Homo sapiens: one gene and its partners. The protein of the gene in region 4 interacts with the protein of the main gene of each other region in a pairwise test. Each region holds a gene or a part of one and is shown on either strand. Other genes may lie near its edges. The genes, in order: CLEC12B, TMEM174, FAM174A and PLLP.

What was found.
Region 1: the proteins of PLLP (region 4) and CLEC12B interact in binary tests that used the Homo sapiens proteins (3 or more experiments, as listed by UniProt).
Region 2: the proteins of PLLP (region 4) and TMEM174 interact in binary tests that used the Homo sapiens proteins (3 or more experiments, as listed by UniProt).
Region 3: the proteins of PLLP (region 4) and FAM174A interact in binary tests that used the Homo sapiens proteins (3 or more experiments, as listed by UniProt).

What each region holds. Positions count from the first base shown.
Region 1 is NC_000012.12:10,006,293-10,013,642, reverse strand, and holds the start of CLEC12B (C-type lectin domain family 12 member B), read right to left. Parts: upstream 3,017-7,350; 5' UTR 2,884-3,016; coding exon 2,793-2,883; intron 859-2,792; coding exon 760-858; intron 1-759. UniProt on the Homo sapiens protein: Inhibitory receptor postulated to negatively regulate immune and non-immune functions. Upon phosphorylation, recruits SH2 domain-containing PTPN6 and PTPN11 phosphatases to its ITIM motif and antagonizes activation signals.
Region 2 is NC_000005.10:73,168,446-73,175,643, forward strand, and holds TMEM174 (transmembrane protein 174), read left to right. Parts: upstream 1-4,747; 5' UTR 4,748-4,798; coding exon 4,799-5,424; intron 5,425-5,614; coding exon 5,615-5,720; 3' UTR 5,721-6,698; downstream 6,699-7,198. UniProt on the Homo sapiens protein: Regulator of plasma phosphate homeostasis. Decreases serum inorganic phosphate (Pi) uptake by regulating the sodium-phosphate cotransporter SLC34A1 trafficking by PTH and FGF23 in the kidney.
Region 3 is NC_000005.10:100,530,372-100,538,377, reverse strand, and holds the start of FAM174A (membrane protein FAM174A precursor), read right to left. Parts: upstream 3,005-8,006; 5' UTR 2,848-3,004; coding exon 2,414-2,847; intron 1-2,413.
Region 4 is NC_000016.10:57,260,650-57,267,672, forward strand, and holds part of PLLP (plasmolipin), read right to left. Parts: intron 1,422-7,023; coding exon 1,248-1,421; intron 1-1,247. UniProt on the Homo sapiens protein: Main component of the myelin sheath that plays an important role in myelin membrane biogenesis and myelination. Plays an essential function in apical endocytosis. Regulates epithelial development through the regulation of apical endocytosis.

The DNA of each region.
Region 1 (7,350 bases), on a different chromosome or scaffold from region 4:
TTGACTGTGAGTTCCCTGTAAGCGAATACCATGCCAATTCACTACTCTGTATACCATATACTTAACAACCCTATAAAGTTTGTATTCTCAGGATGTTTTTCTCATTACTCAAGAACTCCCTACCATGTTCATCCCCAACTTCCCGAGGATGGGTCAGAATCAATAGAATGTTCCTTTGTGGCTGTGGTGCTTGAGAGTGGAGCTTCCATTGTCATGTGGAGATGGTTCAACTCTCTTACTTGGTAAGGTGTATCAGGCCACTCTTCCTCTTTGTTTATATGTCTTTCTCATTCATAGAAATCAGGCTGCTGCTGCTACTTGGAAGATTTCTCTCCACTAGAGAAGTTTCATGTAAGCAGACTGAACCTAGTCTAGTGTTAAGTCTTTCAGGTAAATAAAAATAGCAAGCACTTCCTTCAATACATATTTCTTGACTTTATTTCTCAGCATTGGAATGATAAGTGAATGTGTGTCTAGGCAGAAAAGAGGCTCTTTATTCTAATGAATAACTGGAAACAAAGAGTCTTTGTCTAAGTCCAGTTTAGCTTATCAAGATAAAACAATGAATTTAGAACCAAATCCTGATAATGTCTTTTGCCGGTTTTTTGGGAAGATATGACGAATAGGAGAGATATGAGACAGCAGAAAAGTATCAGACGATTCAGGATGCTAGGACCCATCTACAATCCAAGCTGAAAGTACATGGTTTACAATATGTTTTCTAGTTGCCTTTGTTGGGTTTGATGCTGATATACTTACACATCATCCCCAATGTCACCAGCCCAATCAGCAACATCAGGCAAAGAGTTACCAGACCCAGAGCAGCATGACGCCAAATGGGAGATGGAGCTGGATGCCCTGGAGAAAGCCAAAAGAGCAATCAGCACACAGAACTGCTTTGTGCTTGTTTCACTTTGGTTTGTTTATTTCTCCCACTTAGGGAGCTTCCCGATACTAACGTTTCTTTCTTGCTTCTTTAATGCCCTCATTTAGAAAATACCTAATATGAAGTGCAATGAGGGTGCCATCCTTGTTTCCCCTCCATTTCTCCACCGCTCTCCTTCACTTTAAGAGGAAGCTTCGTTGGGGGAGGGGGGAGGCATACCTTTAGGAGATATACCTAATGCTAAATGACGAGTTAATGGGTGCAGCACACCAGCATGGCACATGTATACATATGTAACTAACCTGCACATTGTGCACATGTACCCTAAAACTTAAAGTATAATAATAATAAAATAAAAAGGAAGCTTCTCCTAATTTCAAGGTTTTTGTTTTACATCATTGCCCACTTTTCTTCCTCAAGTTTATTGAATTCATAAATGAGAGATCTAAAAACTGCTTTTCTGGATGATGCTGACAGTAGGAGACACCTCAAGCTTTTGAGCTCAAAAGTCTCTATAAGGCACATGTTCTATCTGCCTTGTAAAAGTGGATTCGACTTTTTAAAGTATCTTTTACCTGTTAACAATAACTTATCTATTATTCATGCTATTTATCACCTAATAAATAATGAATGAATACTGAATGAAAGAAGGAAAGAATGTGCAGTCTAACCTACAAACAGCAGAATAGACCAGAAAGCCGTTAGCATCCTAGTCATTGTTGTTGTTTAAAATATCAATGGTTGTCATGTTTTCCTTAGCTTCATATCCCTTGATTTAGGTCCAAATAACATCTAGCGCAATGTTTTAGATACAGCATGACAGACTCTAGGTACACTGTGATATGCACCATATCCACACCTCCTTTTTCCTCACAGGTTAGAATTAGAATTAAAAAGTAAAACAAAACAAGGCAAAAATGTGTAACCACATTTATTAGACATATGCAAAGTCTATTCCCATCGGCTTTTTGTAAATATCCTTCCCTCAAATGTCATGCACCACACAAAATGTAAAGATAAATCTAGAGGGCAGGAGAAAGTAGTTCAGATGACTGACATGATTCAGGAGAACCTGGATAGTTAACATATCTGAAAATAAGAGATGTGGTCTTATATATTAAATCAGAGTCTTGACCATGGAGACTGCTATTTTTCCAATTAGGCATAAGAGAATGAGCTGAAGACCAGCACTGAGACTGGGCTTCCCCACATAGCAGTTGTGTGAGCTTGCTTAAATTATCTAATTTCTCTCACCCTCAGTTTTTTCATCTATGTAATGGAGAAAATACTAATATTCGAATATTATTGTGGATTTTCATTACAATTATATCTGTATATAATGTACATAAAATACTACCCAGATACTATTATTACTGGTTCAACATTACAAATTATGCTCGGATTTCAACTACCCTAAAATTTGAAAAAATACTGACAAAAGAAAAATTAGCTCTGATCTATTTCTAATCCACTCACTCATCTTCCAGTTTTCTCTTAAGTAACTTACATCATCTAAAAGAAAAACGTCCTCTACCTTCTCTATTTTAGAAGCCTCCAATCTGGTTTCTGAAAGAATATCCTCCTGGCATCTCTAACAAGGTATAAATATCAAGGATTATATTCATAAGAAGAAATCTCTAATTCCCCAAGCTCAATTTCTGGCATGTGCAGTCAGAATTTCTCTGACTGTGTGATATCACACAACTTTAAAGAGGTTCTGAAAGCCACATATTTTCACTTCAACCTTGGGAACACTCACTTTTCTAATACATTCCACAACTATTTGTCCCCATTTTGGAGATTTCACAGCACATGTCTTTAACGCCAGTATTAAAGCTGGCACCTCAAAGCATTTAACACCTGTCCACTCCCCCAAGGACACAGCTGGTCTTCTCTGAACTCCTACCTCTTTTTCTTAGGTTATTTCCATCTCGGTTATTCCTTGCTCCAGCAGAATCCTGAAATGTGAGTGTCGCGTAGGTCACTTCTTCAGACATTGTAGAAGAAAACGCTACTTTAAATTATCTAATTAATGTTTCAATATCTTGAGGCCTGGGAACAGCATGTGTTTTTCAAGGCTGGGAGCTTTGATGTAGTCACTCAGCTGACCCAGACACACTCTACTGCCCCTCTGTAAGAGAAGAATGACAATTTGTTTCTCTACAGAGAAAGTGAGAAAAGCCAAATATTCTCCTTAGAGATATTCTCATTAGAATGTTACAGATCTCAAACTGTCTGCTCTGTCAGAACTGTTTCTTGCTGTGCAGCAAAGAAGGGGTGCTTGAGGCAGAGCAGGAGGAACATGAGGGAATTCCCATGATCCTCGGGGTAGAGGATGCTCTGAATGTTTCAGAAAAGAGTCAGGTTGTCTTCTTTACATCTATCTAAGGCTAGCTAATCTGCCTGGAGACATTGGTTCTAGTTTATTCTCAGCCACATTAGATATTAAGCAGAGAGACACACATTAAGACAGAAAGAGCTGTGCCACACACCTGGCTGCTATTATAGAAAATTCAAGCGTGTGTGTGTGTGTGTGTGTGTGTGTGTGTGTGTGTGAGAGAGAGACAGAGAGAGACAGAGAGAGAGAGACAGAGAGAGAGAGACATGGTGTTGGTAATGGAGCATGGAGAAGAAACTGATAGCTACTTAGCTACTTAACGTGAGTATGAATGGGAGTGCCCTCTTCTGGCATGGTTGGGAAAGTTCCTAACAGAACAACAACCATGGGATAATCCTGCAGACAGCAAGGAATACACAGGACAAGATTTTAAAAAGATAACTACCGGAAGTTAATACATCTGTGGTAATTTGTTACAGCAGCAATATGTAGTTAATACAGAACCCAGGAAAATATGGGGGGGGAGCGCTATATATGAGGGACGAAATTAAGGAATCTCCTCTAAAGCTTTCCTTTGGGGAGAGGCAGAATATTAGATAACTGTACTTAGGGGAAGGATTGGGTATGAGTTTTGTGGTTTCAGATGAGTGGGGAGTGATCTAAAACTTCCAAGGTTCATATCTGTGTGGAGATTATCTTAGTCAAAGGTGTCCAGCGTGAGGTGCACTCACCCCACAGCTGTGAAGCAGATGCAGAAAGGCAATGTAAAAACTTTCTCTTTAGGAACGCTGTGCATGATCTCTAAACACCTAAATATACATATGTTACTTGTTCATGTTTTTTGTTTTTTTTTTTTTCAAATTGATGAAATAATCAAAAAAATGTTTGGAGGCTCTAAGTCATATATCAATAAAACTCCACTATCAAAAATATTGAAACAAATAATAAATCTATGCTTATGTTTACTATTCTAGTTGAATTCAGAAAAGGCAGAGACCATTGACATGAGGACCAGTTTAAATAGATGATTACAAAAATAAGAAATTAAGAATGGTTTTCTATCTCTGTTCTGGTCCGTGTCCGGAGTTGGTTCCTGCCGGTGGGTTCCTGGTCTCGCTGACTTCAAAAATGAAGCCGCGGACCTTTGCGGTGAGGGTTACACCTCTTAAAGATGGCACGGACCCAAAGACTGAGTGGTAGCAAGGTTTATTGTGAAGAGCAGGATGACAAACCTTCCACAGCATGGAAGGGGTCCCAAGCGGGTTGCTGCTGCTGGCTGGGGTGGCTAGCTTTTATTTCCTTACTGTCCCCTCCATGTTCCGTTTCTGTCGTATCAGACTGACCTTTTTTCAATCCTCACCGCAATTGGCTACTTTTAGAATCCTGCTGATTGGTGCGTTTTACAGAGCGCTGATCGGTGCGTTTTACGTGGCACTGATTGGTGCGTTTTACAATCCTCTTGTAAGACAGGAAAGTTCCCTGAGTCCCCACTCGATTCAGGAAGTCTGGCTGGCCTCACGTCTCATGACTTTCACCAGATTTTGCAAAAACTGGGTTTTCATCCTCATTTCCTTAATTCTTTCACATACCTTAAAGCTTCCTAACAAAGTATTAACTTCTCACTATCCATGAAATGATGCTTAGCTTGAACAATGATGAAGAATGTCACCTGATTCCTAATTATTTCTAAGAGAAGATTGATAACACTTCTCACATACTTTCTATTATTATGATCCAAAAAGCTATATCATCTATCATTATTAGTGTATGATCATATTAATTTAGACATTTCTTTATATACTTTTCTCCCTTAAAAACTTACAGCATTTCTGTAGCTTATTTTATCAGTTACACTATTTAAAAACTCACTTTGTTGCAGTCATTTACCAAATTCTCCTTATTTCTTCATTATTTTTTCAACTATCTTAAATCTTATTGATCTCTACTCCTATCATGATTATCATGTGATTTCGACATTCAGGTAGGTGATAATTCCAATACTATGGGCTCTCAGTTCTTGAATTTGCCTCCAATAACCTTACCCACACTCAGAAATCAGTTGCTCACACACAAAAATCAGTCACCCACTAGATGATCCTAGTTTAGAGCTAGGCTATTCACCGTAGTAATCACTAGGCATATAATTGCTATTTAAACTTAAATTAATTAAAATTAAATTAAATTTAAAATTTATTTCCTAGGTCACACTAGTCATACTTCAGGTACTTAACAGCCACAGGTGGCATTGGCTATGCAATTGGACAGTGCAGGTAAATAACATTTCCATTATTAGCAACGTGGCTATTGAACAGCACTGCACTAGAGTGCAGACAATTTCATTTCCAATATGAGAAATTCTTCCATGATCTGTTTCAGATATTTCACTCTCTGACCTCCACCTCCTATGTTTCCAGCCCACTCTCTCTGGGTATTCTACACTCTACAGCATTTCAGTGCCCACTGAGATAGCAACTTCACTGACCATGCCAACTTCTCATTGTTGTCAATCCCTCATGTCTCATTTCCTATTATACCCAGCATGCACCACTTACCAGGGCCAATTATAAAAATCGTTTTCTTACCCACAGCTACAACTTCCTTGCTTACCTCTTCATTCATCATAAGCATCTAGAAAATGCAGCTTGTTTAAATCCAACCCTACCTACTCTGTGCATACATTCAAGTAGCTGAATGTGATCATATTAACTGGTTTTATCTTACGTTTTTGAAATGTAACTTCTCAGCACTCTTACTAATCAATCTGTTCTGCAAATCTCCTAAAAGATTATTCCCAATCTCTTTTTCTTTCTCAGACTCTCAAATTTCTTTCTGTCTTCTCTTTCTACAAACTAAACGGATAACCTGGCTTTTCCATTAACATTATCTTAAGAAAAAAAAGAAATTCAGAAAGAAGTTTTCTCTGTTTCACTAGTCAAATATACCAAAACAGCTACATCAGTATATGAGGTAGTATTCTTTTCAACAGTGGTTGAATTGTACTACTCATCTAAGATCAATCTCCATCTGTATATTAAAATCCATCCACCTATCTCCTTAAAGATTTCAAGCTTGTAATTTTCCTTCTTTTTCTCTTTCTATCAATTTTTCCATTTTTTTCATCTCTACTTGTTCACTTATGTTCACTTCCAAAGATGATATAATATCTCCTATATTAAAACAAGCAGAAGCCATCTTTTGTTCACCGTAACACCATACACATGATCACTCCATTTCTCTAATTTTCTTAACAACAAATGGGTTCAAAAATTTCTCTATGATCTTCCCAAACCTATTCTAATTAGGCTTTTTCCTTCACTATTTCTTTTTTTTCTTTTTTTATTTTTATTCTTTCTTTTTTTTTATTGAGACAGAGTCTAGCTCTGTTGCCCAGGCTGGAGTGCAGTGGCGCGATCTCGGCTCACTGCAAGCTCCGCCTCCCAGGTTCATGCCATTCCCCTGCCTCAGCCTCCAGAGTAACTGGGACTACAGGCGCCTGCCACCCCGCCCGGCTAATTTTTTGTATTTTTAGTAGAGACGGGGTTTCACCGTGTTAGCCAGGATGGTCTCGATCTCCTGACCTCGTGATCTGTCCCCCTCGGCCTCCCAAAGTGCTGAGATTACAGGCGTGAGCCACCACGCCTGGCCCTTCTTTCACTATTTCTAAAAAACACTCCTGCTAAAGTCAACATTACCTCAGTATAAACACATCCAATGGCTAGTTCTCAGGATTCATCTTACACATCGTATAAACAGAATTTTAAATAACTGATTATTCACTTTTCGTGACAAACTTTCTTCTCCAAAATGCTTTGTTCCCTAGGACACCATTCTCTTGGTTTTCCTTTTGCTTCACTCACAACCCAATCCTCCCTCAGATTAACTGATTCCTCTTTAAATTAATTTAAGATGTTGTTGTGTCCTAGAGTTCAATTCTTGGTCTTCTTAAAAAAAAAACAAAAAACTTATCCTGGAATGAACTAAATTGAATAGTACCCAGAGAATGGCCAGAATGGGAATTAATTTCTTATAGATTCGTGCCTTGAGATAACAGCCATACATTGATAATGTCCAAAAATTGTTATCTCCATACCAGCGCTTGATCTACAGGACCACGTATCTGAATGGA
Region 2 (7,198 bases), on a different chromosome or scaffold from region 4:
TCTCTCAGCTCAGACAACATGGACAACCAAATGTCCTGCTTGAAGTTCTGCTCGCTAGGATTTCCATTCTACCCTATTTCTAGCATCTTTCAGGGACACTCCTGATGGGTGTCATAATGCTTCAGCAGTCCACTGTTGTGCAGAATAACGTATACACAAGACCTAAGATTTTTTCTCCTCAGTCATCTAGCTGGGAAGAGCTCCCTACTAGGCCATAGGTTTGGATTGTAGGAGAAGATGCCACACAGTAAGAGTAAGTGTAAGGCTCTGAACCGCCTGTTTATGTAGTTACTTGTAATTCTAGACCTGCTCATGTCCAAGTTCTTAAATACCATTTTTACTTGATAATGAATCACTGCTGTGCATGCTCAAACTTACAGTTGTGTGGGTCAGATATGCTCAGGTCATGATTGGCAGCTCAGGGGTCATTCAGTGTCCTAGGGTGATGCAGGGCCCAGTAGCCAGGGCCCAGTAAAGAATCATGAGCTGTGTCTCAAAAGAAGAATAGCTGCCTGCAGAAGCAGCATGGATTTTCTCTAAAACCCTGGAGGCCTGCGCTGTGGTTTTATCTATGATTACTCTGTACAGCATCACTACTTACCATAGATACTTTAAGTATCATTGTCTATTAGGGTTCTCCAGAGAAACTGAACCAATCGCATGTAGATATAGATACTGTTCCATGGTAAGCAGGTTTATGCAAACCTATCCTCAAAGGCCATGGAAGCTAAGAGGCTGAGGAAAGAGGCTGACAAATCCAGTTTCTCAGAAAGGAACATATAATAGGGACTTAAGAACAGAGGCCATGCTCCTGGAAGCCATGAGACAAGATGGTGGATCCTATACCATTACTCACCAGACCCAGAGCTTACATACCTCAGGGAAAGGGTATGTATGCTTCAGAAGGGATGTGTAGAACAATTGCTTAAGGTCAGGATTTATGGTAAGTACTATAACATTAAAGTTGTTTTGATCTAAGGGCAGGGCTTACAGTAAGTACATGCTCTCATGCAAGGAACAGTAGATAAAACAGACTTTTTTTTTTACTATACTTTAAGTGTTAGGGTACATGTGCACAACGTGCAGGTTAGTTACATATGTATACATGTGCCATGTTGGTGTGCTGCACCCAGTAACTCGTCATTTAACATTAGGTATATCTCCAAATGCTATCCCTCCCCCCTCCCCCCACCCCAAAACAGGCCCTGGTGTGTGATGTTCCCCTTCCAAAACAGGCATTTTAAAGGCATTCCTGGAACGAGTTAGACAGCAGTGAACACGGTGGGTTAGCATCTAAGAGGGAGTGGCTGTAGCCTCCACAGATGTATAGCTATATAGAAAGATATCTATTTAAATTTTGTTGACTTTTGGTGATGTCAGCCCTGTAAATATAGGATACAAGTTTCTTTTAGGACCACCACAGAAACTCTCTGGTTCTCTGACTGTGACTTGAGCTGAATTTAAAGACCTGAGCTTGTTACTTTTCCTTTTATAAGTATTGCAGGGCATTCTGAAGTGGCCATCTCCATCCCACAGAACTTGCAGTTCATCATTATTGTCATAGTGATTAAGTGTAGCAGCCAGTTGGTCCCCAAGGCATTTGCTCCAATAGGCAATTTTTCACAACCTACTACAGGTGCTATTTTTATTAGTTTTGATGCCACTTCATGCCATGATCTACTAATATCCCATGTTTCATTGATGAGGACTCAGCATTGTATTTGAGGCCAAGAATATGACCAAATCAATTCCAGAATCCCATCTTCACAGGTATGTTTCCTAACCCCACTGTGAATACGACATATCAGTCAGAATCACTTAGGGAAACAGAAACTATACCAGTTATTTTAATAGAGAGAATTTGGTATAGGAAATTAGTTTAACAGATACTGGAGGATTGAAAAGGCAAAAAATAAACACTAAGAACACTTAGACTTAGTGAAAGCAGGCTGGGGGAACAAAAGGAAGAGGTTGGGCTTATATTAGAAATCAGAAGCTTGGATAAGGGCCCTTGTGGAGCTGGGATGCAGCTCTCTGAGTAGAAAACGTCCTTCAGCTAATGCTGGCATCTCAGGAGCTTGGACAAAGAACAGTGGCTGGTGTTGGTTTCCCTGAAGGGGCACAGTGAGGCTGATTGGAGGGCAGGAGGAGGGTTCTGGAAACTGGAACTGTTACTGCCAGGAAGAAGAACTGTTGTTGGAGTGACACTGACAGTAACAGCAAGCAAAATAGAAACTGCTAAGTGCCTTCTCCTTTCTCCCACCTTGAAGTCTCCCTGTAGCACCCCCTATTGGCAAAGCCTAACTGGAGCAGCCTGGGAAAGGAAAAGTGTGCTTTGAGAGTCTGAGACAAAGAGAAGTTTAGAAAGGTGGGTTTGGAGCTGAGTCACCATAGCTTAATAATCAGCATAGTTTTCTTGACTGTAACCTGGTTGTTAAAAGAATGAAATTATGTCACCTATATTAAATGTATAGAATTACACCTGGTACATAGTAAGTATTCAATAAATGTTTCCCCTTCACTCATCAATTGAGATGATCGTGTGTTGTTTTTTCCCCTTCATTCTGTGAATATACTGCATCACATAGATTGATTTTTGTACGTTGAACCAGCCTTGCCTTCCACTTGGTCATGGCATATAGTCCTTTGAATATGCTATTGAATTCAGTTGGTTAGCTTTAAAAAAAAATTGCTATTTACCATCTAGACAGAGGTGGGGCTTTTGGAAGAAGCAGCTGAGTCAAACGGACCTTGAAAATGTAATTGGAGAACTTTCTGATCTTTCTGCTCTGAAAGCAGTTCCAGTTTGCATTCATGAGCTGTCTAAAGGAGGGTGATCTGTTTCCTCTACTCTCTCAGGCTTCCCAGTTATTCTTAGTGGATATAGCTAAAGGCAAATGGAAAACATAAATTGAGTGATTTAGAAGACAGTTTTGAGATCCTAGCTTTTTTCTAAATGTCAGGGATTGTTTTGACTGTTAACTTAGGAGTTAAGAACCTGAAAATAATGGCAGGCTAACTTACCAGAAATTTATAGTTAAAGAGAAAATCTGGCTTTCCTGGATCTCTGATCTAGCTCAGTGGGAAAAAGGGCAGCCTGTTCCTATAGCAACTCCACTCCAGCCTTGCTGCTCCAAGGCACATCCAGGAAGATACCTCAGGGGTCACCTGCTTGCTTTTCCATCTGTTTGGCAGTGAAGTAGGAGATTACAAGCCTTGTCCTGTAGCAGGGAGAGGCATTTTCATGGGGAAAAATGTCCTTTGGTCTCCTAGAAGCATTTAAGGTTAACCTGGGGTTGGGTTTCCTAAGATTTCTTGATGATGAATCACCTGAGGTCCTTCCCTTGGATATTTGGTTCTGTTGGTCTGAAATGGGAGCTCACATTTTGTCCTTTAAAAAAGTGGCCCATGTGATTTCTTTGTCAAGGGAAGTTTAGGAAGCCCTGCCTTAGGGCAAGACGGCAGCCCTCTCAATTCTGCAAAAGGAGCTAATATAATATTTAATTACTGCAGAGAGCATCGGCTTGAATAAAATCTGTCTAGGAAGGAAAGAAGGCTACAGTTATTAATCAGTGGAGGAAGAAACTCATGGGGCTGTTTGGAAGTTTTGCAGTCATGAATGACAGATAATGTTATTGAAAATTAAACTGTCTTCTCTACATCAACTTGGGTTTGGTTGTAAAACATAGTAGGTTCCAAAACACAGCTGGTTGTTTCACCTTGAAGACCAGGAACTGTGTGGCCACCATGGAGGGAGGGTCCGAAGCATGTGTCCTAGTGAGCCAGGTCATATCTGATGCTTATTCAACCACTGGCAGTGATGCAGTGCATAAAAAGGTTTCCTATGACGTTGTTCCTCTCCCAAAGCTGGAATTACTCCCCAAACGCAGAAAGCAAAAGGCATGTGGGGCTGGCCAGAAAAGAACAGGATCTCAGGGCTTTGTGAGAACTGTTATTAAAGTTTAAGTATCATCACAGCTAGGGGTTCTTGAAGTAGATAGGAATACACACGCAGTCAAGAAATAGGTGTCTGTCTATTCCTAATGAACTGAACCACTAGGTAAATCAGGTTAGACTCCTGTGCATGTGTGGATATATCAAGGGCCCCATTCACTGCTGGAGACCCTTGAGGGAGCTCTGCCATTTCTACAAAGTTGGGTAGGACAAAAACAGGGTCTTATGGCAGCGTCTTAAATTGCTATAGAAGAGTACCTCCTGGGGCCAAGGCAGGAGGAGCACTTGAGTCCAGGAGTTTTGAGACCAGCCTGGTCAACATAATGAGACCCTATCTCTACAAAAAATTTTAAAAATTGGCTGAGCATTGTGATGTGTGCCTGTAGTCCTGGCTACTGGAGAGGATGAGGTGGGAGGATCGCTTGACCCAGGAGGTTGAGGCTGCAGTGAGCTATCATTGTGCCACTGCATTCCAGCTGGGTGACAGAGTGAGACCCACACCCTAAAAAAACAAAACAAAACAAAAAAAAGAAAAGAAAAGAAAAAGAAAGAGAAAGATGGGCTCAATAAGTTAATTTTTGAATGTGTGAATGAATGAATGTGAATTAGAGAGACAGCTTGTCATTGACTTGCAAAACAGAGACCTCCACTTGTTGACAATACATGAGAAAACTTCAGGCTTCATTTCTCAGACCTTTATTCTTCTAAACAAGGTCCAGCCCTCTGTGTGTTACACCCTGTTAAGCACAAGCCCTAAGTTCTTCTATAACTAATTTGGACCTGTGATTCCTTGGTTCTCACAATCCTCTCCACTCTAAGAAGCAGGGTGAGCCCACAAGGAGCAATGGAGCAGGGCAGCGGCCGCTTGGAGGACTTCCCTGTCAATGTGTTCTCCGTCACTCCTTACACACCCAGCACCGCTGACATCCAGGTGTCCGATGATGACAAGGCGGGGGCCACCTTGCTCTTCTCAGGCATCTTTCTGGGACTGGTGGGGATCACATTCACTGTCATGGGCTGGATCAAATACCAAGGTGTCTCCCACTTTGAATGGACCCAGCTCCTTGGGCCCGTCCTGCTGTCAGTTGGGGTGACATTCATCCTGATTGCTGTGTGCAAGTTCAAAATGCTCTCCTGCCAGTTGTGCAAAGAAAGTGAGGAAAGGGTCCCGGACTCGGAACAGACACCAGGAGGACCATCATTTGTTTTCACTGGCATCAACCAACCCATCACCTTCCATGGGGCCACTGTGGTGCAGTACATCCCTCCTCCTTATGGTTCTCCAGAGCCTATGGGGATAAATACCAGCTACCTGCAGTCTGTGGTGAGCCCCTGCGGCCTCATAACCTCTGGAGGGGCAGCAGCCGCCATGTCAAGTCCTCCTCAATACTACACCATCTACCCTCAAGATAACTCTGCATTTGTGGTTGATGAGGGCTGCCTTTCTTTCACGGACGGTGGAAATCACAGGTATGGCGTGTCTACTGGGGGAATGCACTCCTTCTAGCCATCTCCGTCATGATCTGTGGCTGTTTGGTCCATGAATAAGGTGTTGGGAGACTGTGAATCTCTTCTTAGCCTGTTGCCCACGATGGCAGCCTTGGTTCTGTGAATGGTGCTTTGGACCATAATGTACCTGTGTTTTCTGCTCACATTTCAGGCCCAATCCTGATGTTGACCAGCTAGAAGAGACACAGCTGGAAGAGGAGGCCTGTGCCTGCTTCTCTCCTCCCCCTTATGAAGAAATATACTCTCTCCCTCGCTAGAGGCTATTCTGATATAATAACACAATGCTCAGCTCAGGGAGCAAGTGTTTCCGTCATTGTTACCTGACAACCGTGGTGTTCTATGTTGTAACCTTCAGAAGTTACAGCAGCGCCCAGGCAGCCTGACAGAGATCATTCAAGGGGGGAAAGGGGAAGTGGGAGGTGCAATTTCTCAGATTGGTAAAAATTAGGCTGGGCTGGGGAAATTCTCCTCCGGAACAGTTTCAAATTCCCTCGGGTAAGAAATCTCCTGTATAAGGTTCAGGAGCAGGAATTTCACTTTTTCATCCACCACCCTCCCCCTTCTCTGTAGGAAGGCATTGGTGGCTCAATTTTAACCCCAGCAGCCAATGGAAAAATCACGACTTCTGAGACTTTGGGAGTTTCCACAGAGGTGAGAGTCGGGTGGGAAGGAAGCAGGGAAGAGAAAGCAGGCCCAGCTGGAGATTTCCTGGTGGCTGTCCTTGGCCCCAAAGCAGACTCACTAATCCCAAACAACTCAGCTGCCATCTGGCCTCTCTGAGGACTCTGGGTACCTTAAAGACTATAAAACAAAACAAAACAAAAACATCAAACCAATGAAATAAAATAAATCATGTCTCCTGCTAGAATAGTATTGGATACCTGACTAAATTACACAAAATAGACCATAATAGGATAGCGCTGTGAATACATCCTTCCCGATCACTGAGTCACAGTGACCCTTGGCTGCTGCTGTTCTCTTCTGCAAGGTTGAAGCTTGACGTGTGATGAACATGGGTGGGCTCTTGGTCCACCCCAGGCTGGGGCCTGCGCCAAGCATGAACTAGCTGGGACCAGTGGCTGACAGAACACAGGACTTCCCTAAGTACCCGTAGGTCTGTGGAGCAAGACAGAGCAGAGTTGCCATGTCAACACATGGGGAATGATATGATAGAAACAATCTTTATGACTAAAAGAAACTCATCTTCTTCATTAAAAAAACTTTGGTGTCCTTAATCTCTCTGAATTTGGCTGTGTAATAAACAACTGGAACTGACTCACAGACTTTAGAAGAGACAGTTTAAAACCATTAGGTTTTAAAAGAAAATATTTGCTTTGGGCTTCAAAGGCAATGCCACTCAAGGTAAGGGTGGTACATCCTAAAGGAAGACACAGGATTAAGCAATTCTTAAAAAAATTTTGACATAGCGTTTGTATATGGAGCAACTTTTACTAATTTTGATCAGAAGTATCTAGGTTTCCAAGGATATGAGTGAAGTAAGCTTGGTATATTATTGTTGTCATTTATGTTATATCTTGGGGACAAAACCTTTTCACATACACTGTCATGTTTGATGATAGGTGATAAGTGAAAATGATTTCATTTAAAGAAACTAGCTTTATGTTCAGCAGATCCCTGAGACACTGGTCCCTAGCTGAGGGCCATTGGTTTTGGAGAAGAAGTTTGGTGACAAGGACCAGGCTGAGCATCACCAGTGGCATGCTGACCAGCAGAT
Region 3 (8,006 bases), on a different chromosome or scaffold from region 4:
AGTTCAATGTAATAAAATTTTACAAGTAAAATATTTTCTGCATCACCTCAAATCAGTTAAGAAAATAATGATTTTGGCCCATTCTTCTCCCTTGGCACAAATAACTAATTTCAGTGCACTGTCACACATAGTTTGAAAATGGGAGCCAAAATGAGCATTCACCAAGATAATGAAGAAAACCATAATCTGGAAGCAAAAAGTATGAGTTCGGAACACTGCCCAGACATTGTTAGCATCATTCAAGCTTTGGATGCCAGGCAGCCAACTAAATGTAGGACTTGGACTGCATGAATATGTTAGATGCTGGTTAAAGAATGCACTTTTTATTAGCCATAGTTCAGAATTTGGCTGTTAACACACATCATGTTACCAAGTCATCCAATAGGATCATATTGGAAGGACTGTATCTGTCCAAGTTTTACAACATTAATGACAGAAAATCAATGGTAATAAATATGTGTATTTAAAATAATTAAAAAGGTGGAAGCAAAAGGAAAAAAACAAGGAAGGAATATTCCCCCCAAATTATCATTATACTTATCATTTTTATGTATAAGAGATACAACATTCAAGGGGCCATGCATTTTTATAGGAACTATGTACAGACAGCAGTAAATAACAGTTATATAGTGAGGAAAATAATTTGTTTCAATATTCTTTTAATCTTTCTTTATATTAAGAAGAAAGTCTCAGTTTGGTGGTAATATGCTTTTAACACTTAGAGTGTGAGTGCAGATTTGCTAGCCTTTGTGAACCAACAATATCTAGCTCAAATAATATTTCTTACAGCTGTGGTTCTCAAATATTGCTTACGCCTGCTGTTTTGGATTTCTTTACATTCTTAAAATTGTTCAGGAACCCAAAATAACTTATATTTATGTGAATTACACATATCAACTTTACCATATTAATTAAACTTGAGAAAACCTATACTTATCAACTGATTTAAAATAATAGTAAACACATTACAAGTTAACATAACTTTTATGAAAAACAACTATATTTTCAAAAAAGAAAAAAACGTAAAAAGAATGACATTTAGATTCTTATTTCCAATTCCCTTTAATATCTGGCTTAAGGTGATAGGAGTAGATAAAAAATAGAAACAAAAAATAGGAAATGGATAGATTTTTATATTTACTTCTGCATTAAATCCTTTGCAATGTGTTGTTTGGTTGAAGCATACAAAGTAATTCCATCTTCGCACAGATATAAACTTGGAATGGAAAGAAACATTTTAATAGCCTTTTTATATATGAGTGGTTATTCCTTTATGATACTACTACACCAAAACTTGACAAGCAGTTTCTTAAAGATTAGTTGCAATGTGGAATCTGAAACAATATCAATGAACTACTTGTACCCTATAAGCCTGTAACAGAATGTATTATTTTGAAAATAGTTTTAATACTGTAGATGCCCTGAAGAGGTCTAAGTGAAACTCCCACCTGTGTGGTTCCCTGGCCCACATGTCAAGAACCACTGGCTTACACTATTTTTTAACTAGCCAAGTGATGTTGGTTTTCCATTCATGATAATAACGACTTGTTTAAAAGGAAACTTTTGCTTTAAATAATCAGTTTAAAGAAATATGTTAAATTACAATACAGAGGGTATTTATGGGAAAAACGTGAATTTTGAAAACAATAAACAAACATAAGCTGCAAACCTACCCTCTACACTTATTTTATAATGAAATAAACTGCTAGACAGCTTTCCCTCACCTTATCTCTTTGCTGGCTTCTCCTAATGGTGAGGTCTTGGCTCTGTATGTCAACTCTTCAGGAAGGTGATTCTCTGCCACTTAGGTGGCAGATTAAAGGGCAATACTAGGAAACACTGATAGTAAGGAAGAACTTTTCTTCTCCTGAATTTTATAAAAATAAAATATCCATAAGGCACCTCTATATTACTATTAATCCACTCAAATATATATTGATTTCCTATTAAGTGGCAGCATTGTACAAATAATTTGTAAGACTCACAAACCTACTAAATAGATATCCTGTCTTTAAAGAGTTTGCATTCTGATTGGCAAAATTTTGACCAGTTAGGTATACAAAAATTTAGACTAGAAAGGTAGAAGTATTACAAGACAGAGTAGTCAAAATTCTAGGGAATAAAGATTATCCTCACTTCAGAGAAAGGGTGCCCTTTGAGGCTGACGTGGGTTGTAGGTCAGATGAAGAGATTTGGAGGTAGGGCACTCATTTATAAACAAAAGGCAGCAATTAGTTATAGGTTTAAATTGCTCCAAAGGTAACAGGCCTTTAAGAAAGTCAATATCATATTCTTAAGCAGGAGTCCCTGATGCTGGGGAAGGGGGAAAGGGTCACAGAAGTCAGCCTTGCTGGAGATCACCGGCCTGCGTATCTCAGGCCCACGGGGGTGCCCCACCGAGGCTTTGCCTCACCTGACCGTCCTGACCACGAAGTACACCAGCACCGCGCCGCTCACCACCATCAACACGGTCAGGGCCCGCTGGGTCATGGGCTTGTCGCCAGGGTTGGGGCTCACAGCAAGGCCGCCACCCACCGAGCCTTCCCCGGCCTTCCCTCCGTGATCGTCCGTCTCAAGCCCGGCCACAGGGTTGCTGCCATTGCCTCCCTCGGAGCCCCGCGGCCCCGCAGCTTCAGCCAGACCACGGCCCGGCTGCTGGGCAGGGGTAGGGCCCGGTGGCAGCGGCGGTAATGTCCGTGGTCTAGGGTCAGGAGGCCCAAGACCTGGCGCGGCCTCGGCTGCCTGCAGCAGGACTGCCAGGGGCCCGCTTAGTTCAGGCAGCAACAGCAGGAGGAGGACGGAAGCCAAGAGGTGGCTGAGACAGCAGCAGCACTGCGAGGCCTTCATCGTTCCCGGACCGCTCTCTCACCACCCGGGAGCCGCCAGGCCCGCCACGCTGGCTCCAAGAGGGACCATAGGCGCGGTGGAGAATGAAGCAGAGGTGACCAAACGCCAGGGAGAGGCCCGGTCGTGGCAGGTGGCAGAAGCTACAGCAGTGGCAGCTGCCCGGAGAACCGGAAGTTCGTACATCTCAGCGGCCACTGCTGCTAAGGACGCCTTCGGTTGCTAACTTGTAGGGGCGGATGCACTTGGTGACGTCAGAGGCCTAGCGCCCAGTGCGCACGCGCACTTGTGTAAAAAGCGAGGACGTGACCGTTTTGGAAGCATTGTTCTTTTCACTGTTAGTGAGGAGCGGTCAAGGATGCGTATTAAGAAAGTAAGTAGACAAAAAGAGATTGTGTAAAATGTACAGCAACTCTCTCATGCAGGAACCCTGAGAGATTGGAAACTCATAATCTGAATTCATTGGTGTCAAACTGCAATAACACATTTAATCTGTAAGCCAGAAGGGCTTAGTTTTCCTTAGCTTCATTACAAGCTTTAAGCAGGCTTTTTTTCCTGCCTATGGGTCCCTGACCTCCCTTTCTAAAGAGCATTTGCTTGTAATGAGTTCATGTCCTTTGTAGGCACATGGATGAAGCTGGAAACCATCATTCTGAGCAAACTATTAGAAGGACAGAAAACCAAACACTGCATGTTCTCACTCATAGGTGGGAATTGAACAATGAGAACACTTGGACACGGGATGGGGAACATCACACACCGGGGCCTGTCGTGGGGTAGGGGGGAGGGATAGCATTAGGGGATATACCTAATGTAAATGACGAGTTAATGGGTGCAGCACAGCAACATGGCACATGTATACATATGTAACAAACCTGCACGTTGTGCACATATACCCTAGAACTTAAAGTATATTAAAAAAAATTACTTTAGAAAACTTTACCATTGTAAGTTATTTCTCTTCCCTTTTCAGATGTAAATATTTTTTAAAGCTTCTGGCCAGTTATATAATTGAAAACTATCTCAAGGGTATGGAAAGCCATCATGCCTTTGAAATATAATCAGCAAGGAAGGTAGTGGGCCATCTCTTATTTTGTGTGAGAGGAAAGGAACCTAACTGTTGTAGGCTTCTCGCTTCAAGTTGTAAAACCACCTCCTGTCATGGAGGAGAAAATTTACTTTTCCTTTGGGTAAAGTCAATCAGCAAACTCAGGTGGCCGGTGATCTTCCCAAAATAGCTCTTAATAACTCTCCACTCCTTTTTTTCTTTTAGAGGAGTTGAGATTAGAAGAGTTTTATCCCCTTTCCCAACAGCAGTAGTCTTCAATAATGTCTTCCTTGCCTGTTTGACTTCAGTAATATGGAACTTCAATTTGTGCAGATAACTAGAAGTGGCCGCATGATGTACCTCTCACCAATGAGATGCCTGTCAAGGGTATACGTGGGTCTTTTGAGTAAGTTATTGTTTTCATTGCTAAAAGAGAGACAGATACAGGTAGATATATACAGAGAGAGAGCCAGAAACACACACACATGCATACACACACCTACCTCTCTCATTATTCCTTTCCCCCTTTCACTTGCCTGCCCTCTCTGCACAGAAAGTTCTGGCCCTAACCTTGAAAAGAATATGACCCAGCTAGTCCTCTGATCCTAGTAGACTGTGGGATATCTGGCGTAAACTATGACTAAACCTATAGCCTGGCACCAAATGCAGCCAAGGTTAGCTTAAGTTAGTCAACCCCAGCTTGACCAAAGAAGTGAAAAATAAATGCTTATTTGCTGTATGCCACTGATATTTCTATGGTTATTGATTATGCCACATTATTCTAGCAATAGTTGATTAAGAAGCTAGAATCAAATCATGGTATTAATTAGGAGAATATAATAATGTGGCAGTAACCTGATACAAATTTCTCATTCTGAGATTTTTTCCCCTTATTTATGTATTTTTTTTTTATATCCTGTGCTTGGTACAACTTGTTTGCAAGCCAATTGATAACAAGTAAATGAACAAGTATATTAAAATTAAGAGAAAAATTCATAAACAACTAATTTTACTTAGTTTGAAAGATTGTATTTCACATAGATATTTGTGCTCAAAATTGTAACTTTCTATTGCACAAACAAAACACAGTATCTTCTCCTAGGAAAATTTTTGTTCATTCCCATGACAGATTTCAAGATGTCATTATATAATGATGTTTTACAAACAATATGGTATTCTAAAAAGAGCACAGTAACTTCCAGGTATGTTGCCTGCTTAAGATCACTTTTGTTGAGAATTGAGTATCTCTGAAAAATCTGATTTTGTTTTTGTTGTTGTTGTTTAGTTAGTTGGTTGCTATATCAGGAGAGATCTGTACTTAAAAAGTTTATCCTGGCAGTAATATAGCCATTTTAAGTGAAGGTAGAAAGTGCTGGGCACCAAGCAGGTTAGTATATAGTCCTAGGGCTATAGAGGCCTGTAGGATTGGATTAATGGGAAAAAAGTTAGGGAAATGGACAGGATATGACAATATCTGGATGCAGGTAGTAAGGGAAAGGAAAGAGATTCTTAAATTTCAGTGTACATGAAAATCACTCTGAGAGCTTGTTAAAAATGCATATATAGTCCATGTCTCCACTTCCAAAAATTCTGTCCAGAATTTCTAAAATAGTGATCTAGAATCTCCAATTTTAACAAATTCCCTTTCTTATTCTGTTTTGGGTAATTGAGAGCTGCATTTTGAGAAACATTAGAACATAGCTTTCCTAATCATTTGGAAACAATAGTTTGATTCTAAGATTTCAGAATCATTTAGCTCTTTGCATGTCCCAGTTATTGCCAAGGACTGCTGCAGATGGGAATTTGGGGTAACAAATGATACCAAGGTTTTATGCCTGCACATCTGGGAGAATGATAATGCCATTAATCAAGATGAAGAACATGACAAAATCAGATTTTGGAAGGAAGGAAAGATAATGCACATTTTCTTTTTTGTCATTCCTTTTTTTTTTTTTGACAAGTTGAATGTTGGACTTTTTTGGGAGGAGGCATTAAATACTAACTCTATTCTATTTTTTGGGAGAGGCATTAAATACTAACTCTATTCCATTTATAATGTGGAATGAAGTTCTGAGTAAGGAAGATGGGAAATCAAAAGGGCATTTTATTACTGATAAATGCCATTTGGAAGCTGACACTAGGGTGTACCACAAATGGGCTTCTTTACACTGAAACTCAACATTAAGATGCCTAATCCTTGCAGTTCTGCCAGCCAGAAGCAACTGCCTTACCCTGCTCCCTGAAAGCAGCTAAGAGACAAACTATCCTGTCCACTCTACCTAAAACAGCAGTTTACAAAATTTGTAGTATAGATCTTGTATGTTTCATTTATAACACACACTTAAGATTCCAAAATTAGTGTGATTATTTTTACCACTTGAACCTAAGTTCTATGAAGCAAGGGTCAATCTCATTTATTCACTACTCAATACTCAGAATTTAGCACAGTGCTAAAAAAGAGTATATCAAAAAAGACAAAGGTGGGCATTACATGATGGTGAAGAGTTTAACAGGAAGAGCTAACTATGCTAAATATATAAGCACCCAATACAGGAGGAGCTAGATTCACAAAGCAAGTTCTTAGAGACCTACATAGAGACTTAGAATCCCACACAATAGTAGTGGGAGAATTTAACACCCCATTGACAATATTAGACAGATCATCAAGACGTAAAATTAACAAAGATATTAAGGACCTGAACTCAGCTCTGAATCAAGTGGACCTGATAGATATCTACAGAGTTCTCCATCCCAAAACAACAGAGCATAACATTCTTCTCATTGCCACATGACACTTACTCTAAAATTGATCAAATAATCAGAAGTAAAACACTCCTCAGCAAATGCAAAGGAACTTAAATCATAACAGTCTATCAGACCACAGTGCATTCAAGTTAGAACTCAAGATTAAGAAATTCGCTCAAAACCACACAACTACATGGAAATTAAACAAACTGCTCCTGAATGACTCTTGGGGAAATAGTGAAATTAAAGCTACAATCAAGAAGTTATTTGAAACTAAAGAGAACAAAGAGACAACATACCAGAATCTCTGGGACTCAGCTAAAGCAGTGTTAAGAGGGAACTTCATAGCACTAAATGAACACATCAGAAAGCTAGAAAGATCTCAAGTTAACAACCTAACATCTCAACTAAAAGTACTAGGAGCCAGGAGCAAACAAATCCTAAAGCTAGCAGAAGACAAGAAATGACCAAGATTAGAGCTGAACTGAAGGAGATAGAGACACAAAATGCTCTTAAACAAATCAATGAATCCAGGAACTAGTTTTCTGAAGAAAGTAATAAAATAGACTGCTGACTAGACTAATAAAGAAGAAAAGAGAGAAGTATCAAAAAAACACAACCAGAAATGATAAGGGGGTATTACTACTGACCCCACAGAAATACAACCATCAGAGAATACTATAAACACGTCTATGCACATAAACTAGAAAATCTCATAGAAATGGATAAATTTCTAGACACATACACCCTCCCAAGACTGAACCAGGAAGAACTTGAATCTCAGAATAGACCAATACTGCACAGCAAAAAGCTTATCCACCACGATCCAGTTGGCTTCACCTCTGGAATGCAAGGTTGGTTCAACATATGCAAATCAATAAATGTAATTAATCACATAAATAGAACTAAAAGCAAAAACCACATGATTATCTCAATAGATGTAGAAAGGCCTTTAATAAAATTCAACATCCCGTTATGTTAAAAATGCTCAATAAACTAGATATTGAAGGAAGATGCCTTGAAATAATAATAGCCATTTATAACAAACCCACAGCCAATATCATACCGAATGGATAAAAGCTGGAAGCATTCCCCTCGAAAGCCAGCACAAGACAAGGATGCCTTCTGTCACCACTCCTATTTAACAGAGTATTGGAAGTTCTGGCCAGGGCAATTAGGCAGGAGAAAGAAATAAAGGGTATTCAAATAGGAAGAGAGGAAGTCAAATTACCTTTGTTTGAAGATCACATGATTCTGTATCTAGAAAGCTCTATAGTCTCAGCGCCAAAGCTTCTTACACTGATAAGCAACTTCAGAAAAGTCTCAGGATACAAAATCAATGCAAAAATTGTTAGCATTTCTATACACT
Region 4 (7,023 bases):
GAAAGCCTCAGACCCCAGCTGCAGGGGTTTTCCGGGTCAGAGGAAAAAAAAAACCAGCAGCTTTCTGTGTGTCTGGCCGGGGTACTTCCCATGTCCGCTCTCAGCCCTGTGTCCTGGGGAGACTGTCCTGGGGCAAACCTGGGGAGCCCAGCCTCTCCCAGGCCTCAGGGCCTCACCTGCAGGCAGCCAGGTGCCCGAGCTTGTCCTGCACACTTGAGGCCCTGGCCTGGGCAACTTCTGACAGCTTGCCACAGCCTCCAGCCACAGGGCTGCCTACCTGGGCCAAGCTACAATCTCACAAACTCACACAACACAGGCACAAATTCTGACCACCCCCAGAGGGAAATTTTTTTTTTGAGGTGGAGTCTTGCTCTGTCACCCAGGCTGGAGTATAATGGTGTGATCTCGGCTCACTGCAATCTCCGCCTCCTGGGTTCAAGCAATTCTCCTGTCTCAGCCTCCCAAGTAGCTGGGACTAGAGGCGCGCGCCACCACACCTGGCTAATTGTTGTATTTTGCTAATTGTTGTATTTTTTGTAGAGACAGGGTTTCACCATATTGGTCAGGCTGGTCTCAAACTCCTGACCTCAGGTGATCCACTCACCTCAGCCTCCCAAAGTGCTGGGATTACAGGCGTGAGCCACCACACCCGGCCGGGAAAAATATTTTTAAGATTCCAAATGGCCTCTTACAAATCCACTCAACAGCCCCTCACTTCTACTCCCCTCCTGGGACAAAGTCAAGCCTGTGTCCTTCCTGGCTCATGGTTCCCCAAAAAACCGTGCACCTAGGCATGGTGGCTCACTCCTGTACTCCCAGAATTTTGGGAGGCCAAAGTGAGAGAACTGCTTGAGCCCAGGAGTTCAAGACCAGCCTGGGAAATAAAGTGAGACTCCTCTTCTACAAAAAATAAAAATAAAAATTAGCAGGGCATGGTGGCACGTGCCTGTAGTCCTAGCTACTGGGGAGGCTGAGATGGGAGGATCACATGAGCCCAGGGGTTCAAGGCTGCAGTGAGCCATTATTGAGCCACTGCACTCCAGCCTGCACATAGTGAGACACTGTCTTGAAGGAAAAATAGAAAAACTGGACCTCTGAACCATCAATCCTCACCTCCACCCCTGGCTCTGCAGATCAGCTTAGGTCAGTGAGGATGTCAGGCCACCCCCCCACACCCTGCCACTTCTTCTAGGGAAAGTCACAGTGGTCCTGTCATAGCCACTTCCAGTACCCCCACCCAGACTCACCACCAGTGGCCAGGGAACCATGTACAACTTCATGTGCAGCTGAAACAGGTAGAGGTTGAAGAGGACGATTGTCACCAGCCAGAGGAAGACAGCGACGAACATCACCCAGCCATAGGCCGGATACAGGTGGTACGGGGTGTCCGCAATCAGCGCCCACACCAGCAGCCCCAGCACCTAGGAGGGTCAGACAAGGCAGGATTGGCCAGAGATGCGGTTTCATTTCTTATCTAGCTAAGAAATACTGGCCAGGCACAGTGGCTCATGCCTGTAATGTCAGCACTTTGGGAGCCCAAGGTGTAATAATCGCTGGAGGCCAGGAGTTCAAGACCAGCCTGGGCAACAGAGCAAGTCCCCATCTCTACAGAAAAATTAAGGCCGGGCGCAGTGGCTCACGTCTGTAATCCCAGCACTTTGGGAGGCTGAGGTAGGCAGATCACCTGAGGTCAGGAGTTCGAGACCAGCCTGGCCAACATGGTGAAACCCTGTCTCCACTAAAAATACAAAAATTAGCCAGGCATGGTGGCGTGTGCCTGTAATCCCAGCTACTTGGGAGGCTGAGGCAGGAGAATTGCTTGAATCTGGGAGGCAGAGGTTGCAGTGAGCTGAGATCACGCCACTGCACTCCAGCCTGGGAGACAAAAGTGAAAATCCGTCTCAAAAAGCAAAAATAATAATAATAATAATAATAGTTAGCCAGGTATGGTGGTGCGCACCTGTGGTCCCAGCTACTCATGAGGCTGAAGCAGGAGGATCACATGGGCCCAGGAGTTAAAAGCTGCAGTGAGCTATGATCATGCCACTGCATGCCAACCTCAGAGACAGAGTGAAATTGTCTCAAAAAATAGAAAAAAATTTAAAAAGGAATGCTGACTTGGCTCGTGTGATACACCACTGTACCGGGGCCCTGCCCTGCACTCTCACTCCTCTTGCAGGTCTCAGCTGAGATGTCAGGTGCTCCAGGACACCCCCACGCCTCCAGCCGGCATCCCAGAGCCCTCATCAGTGCTCACAGGGCCCCCCAGGCACCCACCATCCAGGGCCATAATCGTTCCCTTCCCCAGACTGCGAGCTCCACGAGGGCACAGCCGTGGCTGTCTCACAGCTACGTCCCCACACCCAGCACAGGCCCTAGGCCCTGCCAGGGGCTCAGTAAAAGCTGCTGAAAGGAAGATCAAGTCACCACAGTCCCAGAGGCGGGAAGACAACAGCCCTGTGTCCTCCCTCCCAGCTGGGCCCAGCAGAGAACGTCACAAGGGCCTCTGGGTGACCTCCTGCCCAACACCCCACGTCTCCGGCTCTCCCAGATGCCCTTCTATACAGGTGTTGCCATCTCACAGGTGAAACTGGGCCTCCAGGAAGCCAAGGGGCCTACCTGTCAGGCTGTTCCCACACGGCAGGATGGGCCTGACCATCCCAGCAGAGCATGGGTAGTGGCTAACAGCATGAACTCTGGAGCCCAGCTGTCTGGCTTCGATCCCGGCTCTCCTTACCGGCTGTGTGGCCGTGGGCAAGTGTATAACCACCCTTGCTTATCATATAATGACCATTCCTATCTTGTAGAGCTACTGTGAGGACCCACAAGTTCATGCACATAAATGATTGCAGCAGAAGTGTTTTTTTATTATTCCACAAGCCCGAACTGGACTGCACAGGCCCCAGCCCTCACAGCCACAGAGAATTCTCTGCGGCAGGTTTGTCGACTCACTATGCAGACTGTCTCAGGGTGCAGGCCAGCAAAGGGCCAGCTGAGGCAGGGCCCAGGGAGCTCGTGGAGGCCCCCAGAGGCACCTCGGATGTGGCCATCCTGGGCCTCCCCAGCCCCTCCTACCCCCACCCACCCCTTGCTGGTGGAGATGCTCTGGAGAGCGCCTTCTCCACGAGGGCACTCTCTGGAATCCCTGGCCACGGAGAGGACACGAGGGTCTAGCTTTGGAGAAAGGCTCCATTGCCAATCAAGACACACAGAGGTGTCCTCTTTTTCCCCTGGTCAGCGCCCAGGTACATGGCACCAAGGCTGCGTAGTGACCTTGCCACCAGCCCAAGGACAAGTCAGTGGGATCAGAGAAGCGGCTCCGGAGCAGGACCTGCCTCTGGCTGCTAGGGTTTGGAGACAGAAAGTCCTGGCTGCTCCCAGCAGCTGAGGGGCTGCCGCCAGCCCCTAGAGCACCTGAGGGCCTGGGCCTAGAGCACAGACAGAGCTGGGGTGCCTGCCAGGCACCCCATCCAAAAGCAACCTCGTCGAGGACCAGAAGGGAAGCTCCTGTGTGGATCCCTACAGAAGCCAGGGACAAGACTCGGGGGCCTGTAGCTGAGCTGGCCCAGGGAGCCCTCAGCCCTCACAACCCTCCTTCCTCGGCCTACTCCCCATCCCCCAGGGATCTGGCTTGGGAAGGGTATGGCCCAGTGGGGAAGTGGCAGGTGGGGCCTCGAGCTTGGAAGTCAAAAGCTGTGTGGCTGTGTGATGCTGACCGAGTACCTTCCCTGCTCTCCGAGGAAGATTCTGGGTTTTGTTCACTGCTGTATCTTCAGTGCCCAACAGTGCCCGACACATAATATACGCTAAATACACAATGTGCTTAGGAACTAACAATCCTATTTCTTCAACCATGACAGAGACCAGAACCCTGCCCTGCACAGGCACCGTGTATTAAAAGAGGAAGCAGTGGGGCTGGGCGTGGTGGCTTATGCCTGTAATCCTAGCATTTGGGGAGGCCAAGGTGGGAGGATTGCCTGAGCCCAGGCGTTCAAGACCCCATCCTGGGCAATATACAGGGAGCCCATCTCTGCCAAATACTTTAAAAATTAGCCGAGTGTGGTGATGGTGCACCTGTGGTCCCAGCTACTTGGGAGGCTGAGTGGGGAGGATCGCTTGAACCTGGGAGGTTGAGGCTACAGTGAGCCATGACTGTGCCACTGTACTCCAGCCTGAGCAACAGCAAGACCCTGTCTCAAAATAAACGAAAATAAATAAAATTAAAATTAAGTAAAGTTAAAATTAAATTAACAAAATAAATTAATAAGAAGCAGGTGTCCATCTGTGAACTGCCCCTGGCCTTGCCTCCCCCCAACCCAAGTAAGGGGCTCAGCCCAAAGTGGGAGGCCCAGGGAAGGTGTCCCGCTCTCCAGGGCTCAGCACCTGCTCCTCCCCACACTGGGGTGAAGCTCCAGGGATCCACCCCCCAACACACAGCACCCTGCCAGCCTCTGCTGCCCGTCAGCACTCTCACCGCCGCAAGCAGGCCAGGTGAGGGTAGGCAGGTGAGGAAGCCAGGGCGGAGCCACAGGGCCTTGCCCGCTGTCACACACCAAGCTGGGGGCAGAGCCCTTACGAGTGTGGACCCAGGGCAGGATGTCTCAGAACAACACCCTGCCAGAAACAGACACACCTGGAGAGGCCACGAACCCCCAGAGCTGGGGGGAGGCCAGTGTTCTGAAGGAGAACAAACACTTCGGGCAGCACGCCTCCGTCCCTTCTCCAGGTGAGAACTGGGTGCGTCCAAGATAAACAATTATTTTTTCATTTAAAGCCAATTCCTCATGGGCCTCCGCTGCCACTGTGTTGCCAGCTTCCAACTAACTAAAGGAAAGTCAGAAAATGCAATGAACCAAAAATCAAGAAAAGACCAATTCAGGTTTCCACTATCATATGCCTATCAATCACCTGTCCCATGACTCACAGCCTAGGTCACAATAACCACTCAATGCCTTCTCGCTCTGTGCCAGACACATCTCATTGATTCCTCCATCACCAGACCCTCCTCAAATGTTCTATCTGTTATTCCCATCTTCCAAAGGGAATCTCAGGAGGCAATGTGCCTGAGGTCACTGTGGGTAAAGGACAGGGCAGGAGGCCGGGTGCAGTGGCTCACACCTGTAATCCCAGCACTTTGGGAGGCTGAGGCAGGTGGATCACTTGAGCTCAGGAGTTCGAAACCAGCCTGGACAATATGGAAAACCCCATCTCTACCAAAAATATAACATTTAGCTGGGCATAGTAGCATGTGCCTGTGGTCGCAGATACTTGGGAAGCTGAGGTGGAGGATCAATGGAGCCTGGGAAGTCAAGGCTGCAGTGAGTCATGATGGCGCCACTGCACTCCAGCCTAGGTGACAGAGACCCTGTCTCAAAAAATAAATAAAAATTTTAAAAGGATAGGGAAGGACAGGAACCCAGATCCGTGCTTCCTTGGAACCTGCGCTACTATGAGTTATTTAGTGAAGTGTAAAAAATGAGGACACTTCAGCTGGCTCTAGGAGCCAGTCTGGGCTGGGCACCCAGGCTCCCCCCACTGCCCGCCGCCATCCCTGCCCCGCCCTGTGCTGTGCTCCAGCCCCACCCCTGGTTTCCAGATCAGCGAACACAGCGTCCAGATGAAGCCGGTGGATAAGGACTGGGAATTTCTGGCGTTCTTTCTGGCTGTGCTGCCTGGCTCTGTGCCTGCGGAGCTGCCTCGGTTTCTGCCCTAGAACAAGGAAGGTTCGTTCCTGCATTTGAACCAGACAGACTGGTTTCTCCTGGTTCCTGAGCCCCCAGCCCAGTCCCCCAAGAGAGACCCTGCTCGGAACAGGGCACCCAACACAGGCCTCGCTGTGGGCATCTCTCTGGGTTAATATATTTAACAAATGTCTATGGAGAAGGGGCCAAGAAAGATCTCACTGGCAAGGTGATGATAAGCAAAGACCCAGGGAGGTGAGGGAGGGGCAGGGAGGGTGCCACGTGGGTATCTGAGAACAGAACTCTATGCCTTCACCCCTGGGCCCTGCAGGTCTCTCTTGCTTACATGTTCGTCTGTCCCCGTGTTTCTCTGGAGGTGTCTACATGAATATCTAACTGTCTCTCTCCTACACACACAGGCAAACCACATCCTCCCCTCCTTCCCAGCTCTCTGAGGTCCCTGCCATGCCTCCCCAGACAGGTCCTGCAGATAAACAAAGGGAACTGTCTGGAAATCTCAAGGGCACAGGGCCTTTTTTTTTTTTTTTTTTTTTGCTTTTCTGAAAACCTGAATAATTTGGATTAGGAACTTTTTTTTACATATGAAGACTACAGTGTCAAAAACGACCTTTGCATCTTCAAAGAATTTCCAAACAATTGGGTAACGAAGAGATGTTTTTGTTAAAACCACCTGTGGCATCAGAGAGAAGATTCGTCACAAATGCCCAACCAAGAGGCACTCCTTGCTGCAGTGAAACCCTGTTATTACAGTTTCCCCAGAAGCTGCCAACACTGACAGCCAGACAGGCCAGGTTCCTGCAGGGTGCATGCCCTTCACTGACTCTGAGGGAAGTTTTTCCTCATCTCTTATTGTGGTTTGCAATGTGTTCCCCAAAATATGTTCAAGTTCTAACCCCTAGTACCTGGGAATGTGGCCTTATTTGAAAACAGGCTCTGGCCAGGCGCAGTGGCTCATACCTGTATTCCCAGCACTTTGGGAGCCTGAGGTGCATGATCAGTTAAGGACAGGAGTTTAAGACCAGCTTGGCCAATATGGAGAAACCCATCTCCAGTAAAAATACAAAAATTAGCCGGGCATGGTGGTGGGTGTCTGTAGTCCCAGCTACTCAGGAAGCTGAGGCAGAAGAATCACTTTGAACTCAGGAGGCAGAGGTTGCAGTGAACTGAGATTGCACCACTGCACTCCAGCCTGGGGGACAGAGTGGGACTCTGTCTCAGAAACAAAACAAAACAAAACAAAACAAGGCCTGGCATGGTGGATCATACCTGTAATCCCAGCACTTTGGGAGGCTGAGGCAGGTGGATCACCTAAGGTCAGGAG